Linked DNA regions of Homo sapiens: all the other regions are linked to region 2. The links come from fine-mapping of genetic effects on gene expression. A gene starts in region 2. Each other region holds a variant in brackets. All regions are shown on one strand. Distances are from middle to middle.

Evidence for each region. PIP is the estimated chance that this variant, and not a neighbour inherited with it, causes the effect.
Region 1: its variant is fine-mapped to the expression of MARVELD1 in whole blood (TOPMed, PIP above 0.99).
Region 3: its variant is fine-mapped to the expression of MARVELD1 in whole blood (TOPMed, PIP 0.96).

What each region holds. Positions count from the first base shown.
Region 1 is chr10:97,686,402-97,689,153 of GRCh38, reverse strand. It overlaps AVPI1 (arginine vasopressin induced 1), which reads left to right and starts at 1,913. Exons shown (of 3, transcript NM_021732.3): 1 at 1,913-2,388. RefSeq lists enhancers at 869-1,822, 890-2,089, 1,823-2,752 and a silencer at 1,547-1,926. The variant G/C (reference allele first, on the strand shown) is at 1,713.
Region 2 is chr10:97,712,400-97,715,151 of GRCh38, reverse strand. It overlaps MARVELD1 (MARVEL domain containing 1), which reads right to left and starts at 1,422. Exons shown (of 2, transcript NM_031484.4): 1 at 1-1,422. The coding sequence starts at 1,275. The coding sequence ends at 754. RefSeq lists a silencer at 531-750 and an enhancer at 1,061-1,110.
Region 3 is chr10:97,797,356-97,800,107 of GRCh38, reverse strand. No RefSeq gene overlaps it. Among named protein-coding and RNA genes, the nearest start is that of SFRP5, 27 kb to the right of the region's middle. The variant A/C (reference allele first, on the strand shown) is at 1,168.

The DNA.
Region 1 (2,752 bases), 26 kb after region 2:
ACAAAAAAACCTTTTAGCGGCCGGGCATGGTGGCTTACGCCTGTAATCCCAGCACTTTGGGAGGCCGAGGCAGGTGGATTACCTGAGGTCAGGAGTTCAAGACCGGTCTGGCCAACATGGTGAAACTGCATCTCTACTAAAAAATACAAAAATTAGCCAGGTGTGGTGGTACGTGCCTGTAGTCTCAGCTACTCGGGAGGCTAAGGCAGGAGAATCGCTTGAACCCAGGGGGCAGAAGATGCAGTGAACTGAGATGGTGCCACTGCACACCAGCTTGGGCAACAGAGTGAGACTCTGTCTCAAAAATACAAAACAAAAAACCCTTTTAGCCACAGCACAACAACACTTACGCTGTTTTTGTGCAGAAGGACAGAGAGAGGAACTGGAGATCATGGGGTGAGGACAAATAGCTCCCAAGCATCCCCTTCACGCTGCAACAAGGAATTCACAAAGCCCCATGTGCTGGCTCTTCCCCTTCCCACCCACAACTTTTACAGAAGAAAAATCAAGCTTAAATGGATAAGAGGTCAGCTATGAAGTAAAAAGGAAGTCAGGGAGACCCAGGAGCCTTTCCTGAGCATTGCTGAACAAGTGCACAAACACTTCATCTTCCAAGGACAAAACAAGCATTTATCAGAGGCCTACTGGACACCCTGCCTCCACTCCTGCCCCCTCCAATCCAAGTTCCAAACTGCAGCCAGAGTGACCTTCTAAAAACACAAACTTGTCATGATGATGAAATTTGCAAAGTGCTGACTGACACTACTGGTACGTGGTAAGTACTATAAAATGCCCGTTACATAAACACAGTACATATAATGCCATTCCTTGTTTAAACCCCTCCAAGGATCACATGCAACCTTCTCTGCCTGCCTCTGCCTTCTACTTCCCACCGTGCTCTCTCTTGCTAGCCTTACTCCGGGTCGCATTTAATTCCTCCGGAGCCAAGCTACCTCCTGGCCCAACCAAATGCCTTTCCCTCTTTCCTTAAAGCAGTCTCCCCAGATCCACTCCTCTTCATTTGACCAGTTTCAACTCCTTCTTTATATCTCAGCTTAAATGCTGCTTCTTCAGCCCTCCTGAACCTCCCAGAGGAAGCTTAGGTTCCTCCATATTTATCCTCTTATAGCCATAACATTGATCACAACTGTAATCACATACTCCATGTTTTAGGTTGTTTAATGCCTGCCTCCCTTACTAGGCTGTAGACTCCCCAGGACAAGGGCTATAGGTCTTTCCGTCTCTCTTGTTTACGGCCTATCAAGGAACTCGGACAGCATAGGTCACTAATGAACATTTCCGAATGCATACAAACTTTAAAATACGGTCTTGTTTAGGTAACCGGCCCAAAGTCGCACAAATGACCCAATATTTGAACCCACGACATTCTGGCTTTGAAGCCCAAGGTCTGACTCCAGCAGACTGCCCCCTCCTCTCCCTCAAAGCCGGAGCCAAACGGTGGGCTGGGAGGGGACTTGAGCGGCAGAGTCTGAGGATCTGCAGAGGGCCACGCGCTGCAAGGCAGTCAGTGCCGCGCGCGCTGGCCTCGGGCCCAGGAGAAGGGGCATCCGTCACGTGTACCCGGCAGGGCCAGCTTTCGCCGCACCCTGGGGCAGGAATGCAGCCCCGCCCAGCTCCCGCGCCAGCAAAACCGCGCTGGCCCTGGGGACTGACGTCAATGAAGGGGGCGCCTCGGGCGCCGCGCGGGGGCG[G/C]AGAGGGCGGTGGGCAGGGCCCGGGCAGACACGCCCCCTCACCGCCGCTCCGCCGCCGATTAGGTTTGAGGAAGCTTCGCACTCCGCTTTCGAGGCCAGCGGAGGCGGGGGGCGGGGATGGACACGCCCCCTCCCTGTCTCCCACCGATGATTGGCGCACGGAACTCCGCCTTGGGTTTGGAAGGCTCGCCTGGGAGCTCATACCTGGCTAGGGCCGAGGATTGGCTGTTCCGGGGCTAGGGAGCGCTTTCTCCCGGGAACCGCGGCTGTGACCCAAGTGGCCCGGACCAGTTTGGGGCTGCGTGCGGCCTGCCTCAAGCAACCAGGTACGTAGGTCGGCGGCCCAGCTCGGCGCTGCGGTGGGAGCCGGAGGGCGACAGTCAGAGCCGGGGTGCCAGCGGGACGCGACCGCCAGATCCACTTAGGACCCCGTCGTTCTGCGAAGCGGCCACGTCTGAGTCCCGGGGCCTCCTCGTGCTGCAGATGTCGCCTTAGGACCTCGGCCAGGATACCCTCTGCCATGCTCTTGTGCTGCCCGTGATCACCGACTGGCCCTTGTAAGCACCTTCGCAGAGCTGCGCCTGCCCTTTCTGAAGGCTGTGGAAGAGGTTGGAGTGGGCGCATCTTAGCTTGCCCCATCCCCATTTGAGGTCTGTCGGAGCTGCCCTTCAGTGTGGTGAGTACCTGCTCCAATTCTCCACCGGGCAGTGGAGTGCAGAGGGTACAGAGGCTAGCTTGGGAGTCCTGACTTTGGATCCCTCCCTGCTCCTTCCACAATCTACAGAAGCAGATAGCCTCCGAAAGGCTTCTGGGACCGACCTTCCCCAGAAGACCTCCTCAGCCATCTGGCAGGAACAAAAATAACAGTGGCTTGAGAGCCCGGGTGCTGGGGTCAGACTGCCTGGGTTCATGTCCCAGCTTCCATCACCTGCCAGCTGTGTGACTTTGGGTGTAGCTTTCTCATCTGTAAAATGGGTATAACAATAGTGCCACCTTAAGTGAGGAGGAAAGAAAGCACCCATCTGAACGTGCTCTGTTCT
Region 2 (2,752 bases):
CTGGCCTGCAAAAACCTTAAGGACAAAGGCGGAGTAGGTAGAGGCAAGAGGAGACTCCACAAGTGTAAGGGTACAACCCACCGGCTTCTCCTATCGGTCCCCACCTCGGCGGATGGGCCCCACCCCAAGACAACCGAGCACAGAGAGACCGGCTGGGAGGAGCTTCGCAGGATGCCAGCACAATCCCCAGCTAAAACCAAACTCGTCGCTCATCCTGGGACCAGCCAAGGCCTGTCCTCAGCTCCGCCCGCGGCCCAGCGCCTGCGTTTTACAGCACCGGAGGCTGGATGAGGGGCCAGGGAAGGGAGTGCTCTTCCGACCACGGGGCGGGAGGGAAGGGGGCAGCCAGAAGCCTGGTTCCAATTTGGGAGCCTCCCCCGGATCTGCGCGGCCCCTGTCCACGTCTTAGTCTCAGCAGGGAAGGGAAGAGGAACCGCGAGGTTTCGCCTCGGGGCGGCTCGTCTGCGAGTGTGTGTCAGCCCCTCGGATCGCAGCCTGCGCTTGTCCCGGGAGACGGCGCGTCCGGCGCGGCGGTCGGGATTCTGGGCTGGGATTCTGGGCGGCGGCGGCGCTGCCGTCGGGCGGGAGCTGAGCGTCAGGGTTCCCGGGCGCGGGCGACAGTGGAAACGCTGGAGGGCAGGGAGAGGGTGCCAGGGCGCACCCGCGCGGGGCGGCGGCGGGGGAAGGGATTAAGGAGGCTGGTCTCCGGGGATTCCCCCGCCCCGATCGGGGCCGCGGCGGGCGCGGGCGGCCTCACGCCACCTCCTGCTTGCCCTGGCAGCGACGCCCGCAGCCATAGAGCGCCGAAAGCAGGTAGAGGCCGTGGCAGACGCCGCCGCAGACGGCGGCCGCCAGGAAGGCGTGGTAGGCGCAGGGGAGCGGGTAATCCTTGAGGTTGCAGTAGCTGTGGCGCTGCATCTGGTCGCTCATGATGCCGGTGGCGGCGCCGTAGAGCGCGGCCGCCAGCACATCGTGCGCCACGTTGACCATGAGCCAGCGCGAGCCCAGCACGGGGACCAGCTCGTGCTTGCCCAGCAGCGTGAGGAAGTAGAGGCCCAGGGTGAGCAGCCAGAAGAGCACGGACACGAAGAGCGCGAAGTGCACGGGGCCCTGGTACTTGCTGGTGGCGATAGTGATCCAGAAGGCAGCGCCGGCCAGCAGCTGCAGCAGCCGCAACACGCCCAGCGGGCTGCGCAGGAAGGGCCGCTGCAGGCGCACCGCGCCGCGGGCCGCACGCGCCTGGGGCGGCGGCTGGCGCGGGGGCGGCGGGAGCATGGCCCCTGGGCGCGGTGGCGGCGGCGGCGGCGCCCCGAGCAGCGGAATGGCGGCGCCTTGCTCGCGGGGGCAGCACGGCCCAGGTGCCCGCTGCGCCCGCCGCGGCCTCCTCGCCTTGCTCCCCTCTTAGTCCTCTCTTCCTCTCCTCCTTTCCCCACCCTTCCTCTCCTCTCTCCTCCCCTCGGCCCTCCTCGCCTTCTGTCTCCAGCTCTCCACCCTTCCCACCCGCCCCTTTCCCTTCCCCTTCCCCTCGGCTGTCTCCTCCCCCGCGCGCTCCTCCCGGCTTCCTGCCATCTCTCTTTCCATCTCGCTCACCACCCTGGCGCCCCCCTTTCCCCTCTGCGCCAGGCCCCCAGCTCGGATTCCTTCGTCCTCGGGCCAGGGCAGGGCGCATCTCCCAGCCCGACGCGGGCCTTCCGCCCTGTCCGCCCGTGCGCTGCTGCGCCAAGTTTGCCACATCTGGGGCCGCCCCTGCCCGCCCTGCCTCCTCCTTTTCCCTCTTTCCTGCCATAGCGCCCACCCCGGGCCTCTGGGCTCTTCCTGGGCGCGGGAGGAGAGCAGTGCTGGTTTTGAACTGGCATCCACTGTCACCTGGACATCCGCAGTCTCCTGCCAGGGCCCGCCTCGTCCTGTCCAAAGCTGTCCGAGTTACCCATGTCGGAGTAAGAGTCCATCACCCACCAGAGGCACCGCCACTCGTTCCACTCGGCACAAGCTTATTGTCCACACCCTCTTTTATCCAACCCTTCCTTGCCATCCTTCTGTCTTGCCCACATTCAAAATACGCTACCTAACATGGCTGGGACACAAACCCAGGGCCAAGAGGAAGCAAAGCCCACGGACTTAACTACTAGGCCGAACTGCCTGTGATGGAGGCTAACGATGCTTTACATTATTATTATTCCGTGCCACCGCTTTACCTGAGTTCTCATTTAACCCTCAAAACAACCACAGAGATACACGCAACTCCCCTCATTTTGCTGAGGAGGAATGAAGCCTACCTGGGTTCAGACCAGGAAGCTGGTAACTACCACCAGTCTCTCTTCTCTCCTTCATGCTCAACCTTTGTGCCCATGGCATCTTTCTTTTTTCTTTTTCCTTTTTTTTGTGGGGGGGGGGGTGGGGGGCGGTGGGGTAGAGTACTGTTCTGTCGTCCAGGTTGGAGGGCAGTGGAGCAATCTCTGCTCACTGCAACCTCCGCCTCCCGGCCTCAAGTGATTCTCCTGCCTCGGTCTCCCAAGTAGCTGGGACTACAGTCGCGAGTGCCACCACACCCAGCTAATTTTTGTATTTTTTTTAGTAGAGACAGGGCTTTGCCATGTTGGCCAGGCTGGTCTCGAGCTCCTGACCTCAAGTGATCTGTCCCCCTTGGCTCCCAAAGTGCTGGGATTACAGGCGTGAACCACCAAGCCAGGTCATGACATCTTTCTAAAAGACAGACCTGATGTTTGTTACACTGCTTCCCCTACTGAGACAG
Region 3 (2,752 bases), 85 kb before region 2:
CACGATGTTGTCCAGGGGTTCACAACAGGCAGCAGCACTGTCCCCTAGAAGCAGGTAGCAAAGACCAGGGCTGTTGTGGTGGTAACGGAGCCTAGGTATGCTACTGACATTTAACACACACGGCCTGGGAGTGCTAAATGTCCGACATGGCAGAGGACAGTTCTGCACAGTGAAGAATTGTGCCACCCAACACAGAAGGCACTGCCAACAGTGCCTTCTCCCCAATTATAGGTGAAGAACTGAAATCCAATGACGAAAAGTGATCCGGTCAAAGTTACGGTGGCAGAAACTTCCAGTTGCCTTCCAAATTCCCTTTTTCTTGTCTTCCTTAGAAAAAGAACCCCGCAACCAGCCCAGTGCTACCCAGCTCAGAGGTTCCATTTCCCAACTTCCCTGGCAGCTCCATGTGAGTGGTATGCAAGGTCCAGTCCATGAGATTAAGGAGGTTTATTCTGCAGGACTGCCAAGAAGCCTCCTTAAATGTGAAGGTATGCCTTTCTCCAGCCTTTCTCCTCCCACACCTAAAATGCAGGTGCAGCTTGAGTAGCGTCTTGGGCCATAAGGCCCTGCACTAAGGATGAAGGAGCAGCAAGGTGGCTGGTGTCAGCACAAAGTTTATCTCCACCCCAAGAGATAAACCCAGCTACAAAGCTGCTTAAGCTCAGCTACAAAGCTGCTTTGTGGACTTTCTCTACCAGGGCTATGACCAGTGTTCTACTTACTTAAGGGCAAAAACACCTCATTATCATCAAAGAACCCATAGGATGAGTCACTTAAGGAATGCTCTGCCACATGCTTTTTCTTCTCTCCTGAGACTTCTTTTAAAAGTATGATAAGTCTTCTCACTCTATCTTCTATGTCTCTTACATTTGCATCTATATTTTTCATCTTTAATCTCTCTGTGCTGCATTCCAGATAGTTTCTTAAGACCTAACTTCTAGTTCACTAATTCTCTTTTCAGCTGTATCTAAACTGCTGTTAACCCCATTCTTTGAGATTCTAATTTTTTTTTCAGAGCTACAGTTGATCACAGCCTGGTCACAGCCTGGGTAGCACTGAGCTGGAGGTAGAGTTATTTTTCTAAGAATAAAAGAAACAATGGACAACAGAAATAGGTCCCAAAGTACATAAAATATGGGTATTATCAGGTAGAAACTAAAACCAACT[A/C]GGCTTAATGTATTTAAAGAAATAAAAGTCTTCTCACACATGTCTGGGTTTTTTTTAAGTCTAAGTTTTAAAATTTTGGCAGGGAATAAGTAACTATAAAAAGTGACATAGCAAGTCTGAAAAAGAACCAAATAGAAATTCTAGCTCTGAAAAAAAAAAAGTTAGGATCTCAAAGAATAGGGTTAACAGCAGTTTATATACAGCTGAAAAGAGAATTAGTGAACTAGAAATTAGGTCTTAAGAAATTATCTAGAATGCAGCACAGAGAGATTAAGAATGAAAAATATAGATGCAATTATAAGAGACCTAGAAGACAGAGTTAGAAGACTTAGCACACTTTTAAGAGAAGTCTCAGGAGAGAAGAAAAAACATGCAGCAGAGCATTCCTTACTCTATCCTATGGGTTCCTTGATGATAGTGAGGTGTTTTTTTCCTTAAGTAAGTAGAACACTGGTCACAGCCCTGGTAGAGAAAGCCTAAACTTTTCCTTCTTTGTCAAATCCCTCTCCTAATTTTCAACCTGCAAAAGTCTGGGCAGAGGAAGACCTCATTAGCCTCTGGCTGAAGCCTGAGATGGCAGAGTTTTGTAAGACACAGGAAGGGGCATGGGGGTTGGTACTCTGTTACCTTGGGCAGTAGAGAGGAGTATATGCAAGGACCGGGATAGGAAACCAGATGGGAAAGGTGCAAAGAGGTACCTATGGGAGGGGTCTGAGGAAGCCTGGGAGAACAGAATTCAGATCTAAGAGAGATCCTAAGAGCCTCTGAAGGTTTCAAGTGCACTTAACTGTTTCTCCCCAGAGTGTCTGATTTCCTGTGGCCCAGTCACCCTGACCCTCAGTTGGAATCCCACCACCCTTCCAGGTGGTTCCAGTGGAATGAAACTAAAGCAGCTCTAGACTGCATCTCCCTCACTCATGGCCTCATCTGGTCCACAGAGAACATGCACACCTCCTTTGCTTCACCATCCATAGAAGAGGAGCTGGCTCCCAACACAGGTTTTTTTTCACTTGCTGTCTTTGCTACACCTTTTCAGGCTGAAAGCCAAAGCCCTTCCCATTAGACTCCTTGGGTTCATGTCATGATCCTTGAGCCTCCCAAACTCCAAGAGACACACCCTAGGCTCCTCCAAGGGGTTTCCTTGTAGCCCATCTTATCAGGCTTGAGGGGAGGGGTAACCTCCCTCCCTCACAGGTTGGCACTAAGGGGTTGGGACTCACAGCATAGCCTTCTACAAAGAAATTCTCTCAAATTTCTCCCAAATCTCCAGATCCTGACCCCGTTTTGCCATCTCCCCAGTTCTCAACCACAGTGTGCTGCCCACAGCTCCTTCTGCATGTGGCACCTTTGTCTTCGTGCCTCAGTCAATACTGGAAGAGAAAGAGTCCTGACTTAATATCTCATTCTATGTGTCACTGCAAGTAAATAGAGAAAAAAATCAAGAAAGAGATGGATACTGCACAGTGCTAACAATAATAATCACCAGAAGTTGAGATTATTGGTGAGTTTTATTTTACTTTATGTAGTTTTCAGATTTTCTAAAATGCATTTTATAAGCAGAAAAATTAAATTTTATCTTTAAAAA